Linked DNA regions of Homo sapiens: region 1 is linked to region 2. The links come from fine-mapping of genetic effects on gene expression. A gene starts in region 2. The other region holds a variant in brackets. All regions are shown on one strand. Distances are between the middles of the regions.

Region 1 (5,311 bases), 230 kb after region 2:
CCCGTCTCTACTAAAAATACAAAAATTAGCTGGGTGTGGTGGCAGTCACCTGTAATCCCAGCTACTCAGGAGGCTGAGGCAGGAGAATCACTTGAACCCAGGAAGCGGAGGTTGCAGTGAACCGAGATCGCGCCACTGCACTCCAGCCTGGGCGACAGAGCAAGACTCCATCTCAAAAAAAAAAAAAAAGAATCATTCTAGTAGAGCCCACATCCCTAAATAAAATTGTTCATCAAAACATCATCATCCAATTTTTCCCTTTTGGGTTTTCCGGGTAATGTTTCTCACTTGAACCATTATGGAAGTGGTTATGGAAGATGAAAATCTGAAAATATGCAGGAATGGGTAGACCATTTAGCTGCTGAAAGTTGGACACCCCACTGAATTGTCTGAGATGAAAAGACCCATTTAGAATAGACAGATACAAGCCTTCCAGAATAACAGCAGGCCAAATGGGCAAGGCAGGAGCTGTTTATTCAAGGACAGCTTTTATGGAAAATTCTTTAGAACTACAGCCTGAAGGAAGGTCAGTAAGATGATTTCCTGCAAGACTGTCCTCTTTCTGAGACGAGACAGAATTAAAACCCTGTGCCCGTGTCTCGGCCTCCATAGTCTTTTTCATTTAGGACTGAAGTAGGTTAAGGGACCCATGAGCAACCAAATTTTGATTTGGGTTTTTGAAAGCTAGAGAAAATATTCAGTGATTAATGTTGCACAGCAGCAAAAATGTGTTAGAAATAGAGACAACGGCAGGAAGGAAGAACAAAAAGAGAGAGAGAGAGAATGACAGAGGGAGCTGCGAGCGAGCTCTTGGGGAAGGCAGTGGGAGAGTGTGCAGCGGCCAAGGCCTCTCCAGTTTCTCAGCAGAATTATTTATGGTGTTTGATTGTTTGGTCTTTGATTACATTTATTGGATTCTGTAAAGAGCCTTAACAGACATTAAAAGGAACTGGTACGGGCAAATATTCTTATGTTGTTGACATTCAAGTGTTTGTACTTGATACATCATGGCCCTGAGCTATCAGCTGCACCAAAAAAAGCCATGATTTGTCACATCACGATGGCAGTGATTGAAGGCTGTTATCACAGTAAGGCCTGCCGGGAACCCTGCCACTTGGCCACTCTCTTTCAGCCCCCTCTAATAATGGGTGCAAAAGTCATGCTCAGTATTGAGGAAATTATTCAAGTTATTGAAACACCTAAATGCAAATCCACTTGCATCTATTTTCCTGAAGCAATTTACTGAGGTTTCACTGGATTGAAACTACGTGCCGGAGTGAGGGCAGGGAGATGTTTTGCCTCCAAAGCCTTCTCATAAGCTGTTTACCAAGAGTAGAGACATTAGCAGTCTCTCTGTTTATTCTGGTTTTCTTTTTTAAGCCAAGAATATTCTTTGTATTTGGTGTTATTCCTTTGTCCTCTCCATTTTTCACCAAGTAGATCAGACGCTAGAGGAAAATAAAGCTGAGGAAAGCCAGCTCCTTTGTATGCCAGGAAAATAAACAATTTTTCTGCAATATAATTGTAGAAGATGAGACTGTGGTTGCTAATTTTAATCTTTCAAAAATGATTCCCTAACATCCTCCTCAATTCCACTTCTTGAAAAGTAGGACTGAAAATCAAATCAACAAATATTTATTGCTCACCCATGAATCTAAGGTAGCTTTTTAATCGAATAACATCTCACTTTTCTGAGAACACTTAAATCTGTTGAAATGTCTCTTTAATATCTAATATCTTTTCTCAAGGAAATAAACAACACAGAAGGGATGGTTCTTACAGAGAGAAGGTTTTCAAAGCTGGCAGGACTAGAACTTCTGAAGGTTCTTTTACATAACCTTAATTGAAATGAAACTGGATGTGTGCATCCTTGGCCTGCTCTGGTTTGAGCTGACTTTGACCTGCTCACAAGAGAACCCCACCTCTCTTCCCCTGGGGATGCCTGGCCTGCCTTCTGTCCTCTTGAAATGGTCCATTGTATCAAGCTGGAGTGGCTCATTGGTCAAGAAGATGCTAAGCAGCCGGGTGCGGTGGCTCACGCCTGTAATCCCATCACTTTGGGAGGCCGAGGTGGGTGGATCATGAGGTCAGGAGTTCGAGACTAGCCTGACCAACATGGTGAAACCCTGACTCTACTAAAAATACAAAAATTAGTGGGGCGTGGTGGCACACACCTGTAATCCCAGCTACTCAGGAGGCTGAGGCAGGAGAATCGCTTGAATCTGGGAGGCAGAGTTTACAGTGAGCCGAGATCCCACCACTGCACTCCAGCCTGGGCAACAGAGCAAGACTCTGTCAAAAAAAAGAAAAAAAAAAAAAGAAATACTCACTCTCAGACATGATCCTTAGAAGCTCTTGGCCGGGCGCGGTGGCTCATGCCTGTAATGCCAGCACTCTGGGAGGCCGAGGCAGATGGCTCAGGAGGTCAGGAGATTGAGACCTTCCTGGCTAACACAGTGAAACGCTGTCTCTACTAAAAAAAAATCCAAAAAAATTAGCCGGGCGTAGTGGCACGTGCCTGTAGCCCCAGGTACTCGGGAGACTGAGGCAGGAGAATCGCTTCAACCTGGGAGGCGAAAGTTGCAGTGAGCCGAGATCGTGCCACTGCACTCCAGCCTGGGCAACTGAGCGAGACTCCATCTCAAAAAAAAAAAAAAAAAAAATGCTAAGCTCAGTCTATTCATAACATCTCAGTGAATTCTCAGAGAAAGATCCAACATGAAGGAGTTGACTGTGGCATAATTGCAACCTCTTCGGAGTGGGCAATTAGTAGATTTGACAGATAAAAGCAGTCTCTTACCGGTATATGCAACCTTGATGCTTCAAAGACCTACGCAAAACGAAAAAAGGAATTGTAGCTATTAATCATAGAAAATACTCAAATTGTTCTAGTATTTATTCATCCTGTCTTGCTCTAAAGACTGCAGCCTAGCCTTTGCCATGAGAGCCAGCACTATTTTTATTTATTTGTTTGTAGGGAGGGAAGAGGGTCTGATAGCACTGGGTAAGAACTCAATTTCTGCTTTTCTTGAGTCCCATGCTTATCTTCTTTCCTCGTATGACTTATCAACTCTGGTGGCAACGTCATTTCTGTATTTAATTCAATCAGATCTTCCCACACTGACTTCGCAGTGTCACTGCCATTGTTATTCTGTAATTATAACTTATTGCTAATCT[C/T]TGGGCTACTAGATAATATTTAAGTACATGATTCACAGAGGGACTGGAAGAAAGATACTAGAGCCCCATCTTTTCTGCCACTTAGTGTTTTCATGTCCCCATCTTTCTGTTTTATGTAGCTAAACAGATCCATCACAGAGGCCACTCCCTGGGTGCCACACTCTGTACTCTGGGGGCACCAAGATGGGTAAGAGGTGGTCCTCACCTCCATCCCTAACCTCTGGTGGCTGACTGCCCTCAGAGAGCACTTCTTCTTATAAGAGGTAGAGTGGGCCGGGTGCGGTGGCTCACGCCTGTAATCCCAGCACTTTGCGAGGCCGACGTGGGCGGATCACTTGAGGTCAGGAGTTCAAGACTAGCCTGGCGAACATGGTGAAACCCCGTCTCTACTAAAAATACAAAAAATTAGCCGGGCATGGTGGTGGGTGCCTGTAATCCCAGCTTCTCGGGAGGCTGAGGCAGGAGAATTGCTTGAACCCAGGAGGCGGAGGTTACAGTGAGCTGAGATCGTGCCACTGCACTCCAGCCTGGGTGACAGAGTGAGACTCCATCTCAAAAAAAAAAAAAAAAGGAAAGAAAAAGAAAAAAAAGGCAGAGTGGGCTGCTATGGACACACTTGGCTTGGGAGGCACCATGGACCGGAGATATTTTCTTTGCGGTACCTACTCTCCACATCAAGCCACAGTGAGCAGAACCTTCAGACAGCACAGTGTGCTAAGGATCCTATCTCCTTCTTGCTGCAGGGGTTTCTTGCCCCAAGTAGCTCACCCAAGTACACTTCCCCATGAATTCAATGAATAAGACCAAAATTAAACCCACAACTTCCCTAAACTATTTCCTTCTCCTAACTTCCCTGGTGTGCTCCTGACATCGTGTTCTTCCAGACGCCAGGCCTAAAGACTTAGCCCCATTTCTGACTCCTCTGGACCCTGGACCCCACGAGGGTCTGAGCACTTTCTGTGTCTGATTTCACCTTGCCGTGGCTGTTCACGCATGCCCGCCTCTCCAGGGCCTCGGCCCCGCCACTCTTGAAGCCGCCATCTTCTGTCTCGCACTATCACAGCAGCCTGCTACCTGCTCTCCTCACTTCGGCGTCCCTTACCCCAGTCATCCTGCACTCTGCTTCCCCATGGATCTCCTTAGACTCTCAGGCTTAGCTCTGAACAAATTACTTCCTGCTCAAAAACCTTTAAGTAGTTTCCCCACCTACTATCTCCTGAATGACACTGAAGAAAACTTTTCTTTAATTACAAGCATATGCCAAAGTTTGATCATAATCTTGCTAGAAGAAAATTTTCTTCAGCAGGCTAATTCAAAGATTACTCTTAGTAGTGGTATTTCGTAGGAAAAACAATGGTAGTCATTGTTATGCCAGATTATAGAAGGTTTAGCTAAAGACTGCTAATGGACAGCTGGTTGGGCTCAACAGTGGATTTCCAGAACAAGTCTTCAAGTCTTTACAATGGATCAGATAATCAATAGGGCAGTTATCAGGAATGCTAATTCTCCCCAGAAGAGGATTATAAATTACATCACGCACAAGGTTCTGTCCCAGACAGATTGGGTGCAGGTTTTCTTTAGCAATAGTCACAGAAACAATGTGCGTTTAAGCTGGAAGGACCCTTAGGGAAGAGCCACTCCAACCCACATGAGAAGACGAAGGCCCAGAAAGGGGCGAGGGTGGGCCCCCGGCCTATGCAAGATCCACTTTGCTCTCAGACCATCAGGCAGGCAGCTTTAGGGCGGTCAGTTCCTTGGAACTCAGCATGGGGTTAGGGTCCCAGACCTGCTGAAAAGAAAAGCCAGCTTAACTCCACCCTAACTGAGTATCACATAAATAGCATTATAGAATTATCCACCACCCATTACCATATTGCTACAGGGAGAACCTCAAGCTCCAACTCTGAACAACGGAAATACACCTCCTCTCTCTCTACCCAATTTCCTGCCAGCCAGAGAGGTGGAGCTCCCAGTTCTAAGTGGTCAGTGAGGGCCTCTGGGTGAGGCAGGCAGAGAAGCCTGTAAAGGGAGTGTGGAATAGAACAGGGGGAGGAAAAAGAGGAGGTGCAAGCAGGGTGATGAAAGAGAGGGCAGCCGGGGAAGCCAGAGCAAGTCTGCAGGGTGGTGATGAGGG
Region 2 (5,372 bases):
CTGAGGAAGCAGGAGAGTTCCTGGTTATGGCAGTTTCTTGGTGATTTGGGGCTTCAAGACAGTAGGTGAGAGATGCTGTCAGGACGTATCTTCTTCATACCAAAGTCACTGGTCCTTTCTCAGCCTCTCTCGTGCTTTTCTCCTAATGACCATATTTTTGCCAAAAATTGGGATATGTTATCTGACAGACCAGAATATTTGAAGTTTGGGCTGTCCTGAAAGTCTGGACTTTGGTGGTACCCTCCTCCCCCAGCCCATCTGTTGCACATTATACTCCGTGTGTTCTTCAACTTTCGGCGCCCTTATTCCCCTGCCTTCCTGGCTTGATTGAAGGAAAGCTTGAAAAGGCGCAGAGCCCTATACCTCATTTCCTCCATGATAAAAGGATCCAAGTGAGGCCCTGTCACAGCCTGTGGGTAGGGGATGCGGCGGGATCCTCATTGCCATGGTACTCAAAGGTAGAAGAGCCTGGAGTTTGTTGCTTCTCTTTGCTATTCTTTCATATCCTCTTGGGCCTGGTGATTAATTAGCAATTCTCATTCCTCTCAGCCAAAGGCCTGCACTGGGCTTTATTTGTCTTTTTTTATTTTTTAAGCACTGCCTGCCAGAGATGGGCCTGGGGCCTGATGAGGACCTTAGCGCTGCTCGTTCTCCTTTTCTGTTCATGCACACATTCCTCCATGGGGTGGGGAAGGCAGGCATGGGGTGTGGCCCTCGGAGAAGTTAGGAGTCCCCCAGCTCAAGATACAGTGGCAAAGACCTAGTGGTCCCCTACCCCCACTTCTCTCAGTTCCTGGCATGAGGAGAGAAGACCCTGCTCTGGTGGAGCTGACAACCTTTGAGGCTGGGAGGAGAGCAGCCTCTGGGCATCGTTCCCAGTGTCCCTCACACTAAAACGGCGTAGATGGCAACCCCCCACCCCCACCCCGCTGCTCAACTCTTGTGTTTGTTGTTCTGTTTGCCCCATTTATCTGTTGCTGTTTTTGTGTTGTCTTCCCCTGCTCCGCATTTTGTAAAATGGCCCCTGGGGGAGTGTTTTTGCTGGATCTGCTCCCTCTCGCTCTCTCACTCCACTACTTTTTGGAACAAAGTGATGGCAGAATGCGGTGGTGGTGGGGGTCTTTTGTACTGTTGGATTAATAAAATGATTTTAAAATCCCAGACAAGGACTCCTTGCTGTTGCTGTGTGAAAAGGCTGGAATGAGCCGCTGTCACTGCTGGGTAGGGTGCTTAGGGGTTGAGGATATGTATGCTCCCCAGGGTCCCTGGGAGTGGGAATGGCAGATTTGGCCCCTGAGCTGACCCTGGTATAAGCTGCTGAGCCAAGGGAGGCCTGTGTTTCCCCGCCCATCCCCCTGTGTCTCCACTGTGAGAAACTGAGTTTCCTTTTTGAGCATATTCCTGGGCCAGGCCTGGAGCCAGGCGGATTTGGCACCACAGCCTCTGGAAGACAAGTGCTTGAGCTCTTCTGGGTTTAGCACCCCACCCACCTCCCAGTTGTTTGGGTTAGGGAGCAAGTGTCGCTCTAAGGGTGAGGGGAGGGGCTGCTTCTGTCCTAGCAAATTTCATTTTGGGATGTTTTTCAGATCGTTCCCGTCCCCCAACCGTTTTTTAAAGTAGCAATGGCATCTTTTAAGCAGTCTGTTTTGGAGCAGATTGGGGAGAATGGCAGGAGGGCTATTTCCACACCCTGGATTTGCGACCTGTCCCTCTCCCTTCCCCCATCTCACAGCTGTCTCTGTCTATCCTGGGGCCAACCTGGCCCCTTGTCTTCGTCATCTCAGAAGACGGCACCGTCTGCTTTTCTCTCAGTTTGTGGGGGTTCCCTCTAGAAACTGTTTAGACACTGGGAAAGAAGGGCAGGAAACTCAGGATTCGGTTAGCTGGGACCCCGGTCGCCCACCAGGAGGTAAGCCCAGGTTTAGGGCCGTGTCGCTAGACCTCCCTTCCCCTCCCCTGGCTCTCAATTCCTGCTCTTATTGGCCAAAAGTTTCCGCCCCCTTGGGGAAGTTGACTTTTCATTGGTCAGTTTCTGGTCACATGATTTTCTTCTCGGGCTGCAAACAAAGGGAAGCCTGCAACAAGTTAAGCTGAAGACCGAAGCAAGAGCTGGTTCAGGTAATGCCTTAGCTGGGAAGGGGTCCACAGATTCGCTTTGAAGGGGGTGGAATAAGGAAAAGGGAAGGCGGAACTAATCTAGAAGGAATGAGCTGCTTTTCATTTCTGGGCTGGGGGAGGAAGGCCAGGTGCCGACGCTAACACAACAGGAACTTGCTCTGGGTACCCCAGGCAAGTGGCCCTAGATCCTTTGCTTTAGCGGTTTGGAGGAGCAACTGTTAGAGGAGTTTAAATTAACTAGAGGCGAGACTTCCTAGCTTTATGCTGAGTGGGAGAGCTCCCCCTTTAGCTGTTTTTTAGAAATAGCAGAAGTCTCTGTCATAATCCTTACAGGAGGTGTTTGTTGAATCCTGCCTGAATGAAAAGAAGGGGGTGGAGGGAGGGAGTGGAGGTGGGTTTTCTTCCAGAAGGTCGATGAAAAGAAAAAGATCTGGAAACACAGCAGGGAAGGGTGGAGATTAGACAGCAGAAGGAACTTCCTAATAAGGCAGTGAGATGCTGGCTTGGGAGAAGAGGTGTTTTTTTGAACCCTGGGTTAACCTAACCAAGAAAGAGGTATCAGGGTTTGGAACCCAGAGTATAGGAGTTTCAGAGTGTCTCCTATTTGGGTCTCATAAGTATTTGTTTTGTTGACCCAAATACCTTTGCTGGTTTCCATGGAGACAGTGGGTCTGACATCACTGTGGTTGCCATGGTGCCTGGTTCTAGAGGACCTGAGCAGGCTGCACACACAGCTAGGGATAAACAGGGACTTCAGCCCAAGCTGCTGCCACTTCCTTCCTGCCACCACCTGTTAACAGTCAGCAACTGGGGATGGGGAGATGATAACAAGGGCGGGGGTGGAGCCACAAGCGGAAGGCTGAACAGCCATGGCTCTATGGATACTTACAGATGCATGCCAGGGTGTCCTGTTGGATTTGGTACAGGGAGGTCATTGCAGCCATTCTCCTGTCTCCGTGTGGAATGGGTGCATGTGTCTGGGAGGATGGGCATTGGGAAAGACCTATCCAGGACTTGGATCTTGACTGGCAGGAGCCACAGGAGGTTACTTAGGGCACCACGCAGGACTTGAAAACAGCTCAAACAGAAGGGGATAATGTGGTTGGTTTCAAAGGTAGAACTGCCATACTCTCCCAGCCTCACTTCCCTTTTCCTGAGTTTTCTTATAAAGTGCTCGGGAAGCAGTCATTTATCCTGTTCTGAGGGATCACAATCCAGTACTCTTGAGAGGTCAGCTCATCTATCCTTCCACCTTTATGCCTGGTCCCAACAGGAGCTGCCTGAGGGAACTGTTTTAGCCTTGGATGAAGGGGCGGATCCCTCTCTTCTTACCCTGCTTTGTGTCAGTCAGGCTTTGGAAACTGGAGTGATTCCCTCCCCTATCCCTGTCAAGTCAGAGCAGATTAACCGGGTGCAGGACCATAGCCCTGATTTTTGTCTATTTTTTGCAAGCTATAAAGTGATGTATATATACATGATAGTTGCCATAAATCCATTTTCCCAGTCACCTTCAAGTTCCCTAAGACCAAACTCTGGCGATTACTAAGAAGGTAAACAGAATTTAGGATGAAGACTGAGAGTGATGAGGAGACTTATAAAAGGTGCATCCAGGTGGATCTAAGCTATGCCAGTGGCTCTTAACCCTGGCTGCGCATGAGAATCATTTGAGTGGTTTTTTAAAAGACCCACAGCCGGGCCTACCCCCCAACTCAATTGAATCAAAATCTTAGGTGATTCCAATGTGCAGCCAAGATTGAGAACCACTGAACTAGACCATACCAAGGACTTATGCTGGGCAAGTGGTGGGACACTTAGGGCTGAAGGAGGCCATTGAGTCTTCCCTTCCAGGTCCTGGGGGAGAAGGTAGTGATTGTGTAGGTACCTGGTGTTGTGAAGGGAGGGCTGTGTTGTTTCCCTGCTCTTCTTATTAACAAGTCTTCTTATTGGCAAGTTGAGTCTGTCAACCTTGCTGGGCTTCATCTTCCCTGACTCAAATGTCAGGGGGCTGGACTGGAATTCCCCAGAGCCTTTCCAGCCTATGCTACTTTGACCTTTCAAGGTCAGTTCAGTTTTCCAAGGCCCTGTTGGTCCCTGGAAGAGGCTGGCTTCTCTGTGGGTGTTGGCAGATTCTGATTTGCAAGGCAAATACTGCTTAGAAGAGCTGGGGTGTCAGGGAGAGAAGGACTGGAACCAGGCTTGGTTCTGGAGGCTGCTGCCCAGCACTTGAACCTTGGAACCCAGCCAAGGCTGCTTTCTGCATTCTGCCCCTCCTGAAGGGAGCTCCCATCCTTAAGAGAGCTTTCTTCTGCAGGTGGCAGCCACAGCAGCCTCAGGGACCTCAGCAACTATGGCCTCCTGCCCAGACTCTGATAATAGCTGGGTGCTTGCTGGCTCCGAGGTAGGAAGAGCGGGCCTGGGAACCATGGGGGTGGGGTTGGGGGGTGTTTCTGCAGTGCTGGGCTTCTTTCTTGGTGGGTCCTTTTCCTTAGTCCTGATGGTCACCTACATCACTTCCTGCTGGCTGTTAGAGGAATTCCAGTAGCAGGAAGAAGTAGATCAGGCCCCAGGGGTCAGGTGTTGGCACTTGGACCATGCCATGAAGGAAGGGACCAGTTGGGTAAGCTGAGACAAGTAGGGATGGATTTCGAATGGAGAGACCAATGTGAACAAAGGTCCTGAGGCGATAGTGGGGAACGCCATGCTGGGGGAGACTGTGGGACACCCATGGGTGATGTGGAGACGTGGGTTGGAGCCAGTGTTGGAGTGAGGTTGGGGACAGAGCCTGGGAACCCCTGGAAGAGACCGGAAGAGCCTGGCTGAGGCCTTCAGGCCTCATCCTGATGGGAAATCAGTGTGGGGCTTTGGGTTAGAGGGATCAGGACAATCATTGTCTCAGGCAGAGGGTGAAGCCACTGTGCATGCTGGGTGGGAACAGGGAGAGAGTGTTTCAAAGACCCCCTGCAGCAGTCCAGGTAGCAGCTGGTGGGGCAGAAGCCCACTGAGGAGGGAGAAGGGGGTTGGCAGGATGGGGAACTGAGTGGCTAGAGAAGGGATGGCAAAAATTTGTCAAAGGCATCTCTGAGAGTTCCAAGACGTAGCGACTTTGTATATTAGAGCCACCAGGAGGGGAGGAGGAGAGAAGCTCAGTTTCAACATGTTGAGTTTGAGGTGCCCTTGAGGAACCCAGCTGGGAGTAAGGAGTTGACCTTGGGGATGACGCTGGAGCAAGATAATGGACTGGGGCTCACTGGCAG

Direction of the effects. Alleles are on the strand shown, and positions count from the first base shown. SD is a standard deviation of normalised expression in the study named.
In carriers of allele C in region 1, the expression in thyroid of the gene that starts at base 2,088 in region 2 tends to be higher than with T alone (moderate effect, 0.47 SD a copy in GTEx).

The links.
Region 1: its variant is fine-mapped to the expression of PBXIP1 in thyroid (GTEx, PIP above 0.99).

What each region holds. Positions count from the first base shown.
Region 1 is chr1:154,719,738-154,725,048 of GRCh38, reverse strand. The region is part of intron 5 of KCNN3 (potassium calcium-activated channel subfamily N member 3); the gene reads left to right. Among named protein-coding and RNA genes, the nearest start is that of ADAR, 110 kb to the right of the region's middle. The variant C/T (reference allele first, on the strand shown) is at 3,178.
Region 2 is chr1:154,952,815-154,958,186 of GRCh38, reverse strand. PBXIP1 (PBX homeobox interacting protein 1) reads left to right here and starts at 2,088. Exons shown (of 11, transcript NM_020524.4): 1 at 2,088-2,118; 2 at 4,430-4,516. The coding sequence starts at 4,466. It overlaps PYGO2 (pygopus family PHD finger 2), which reads left to right. Exons shown (of 3, transcript NM_138300.4): 3 at 1-1,161.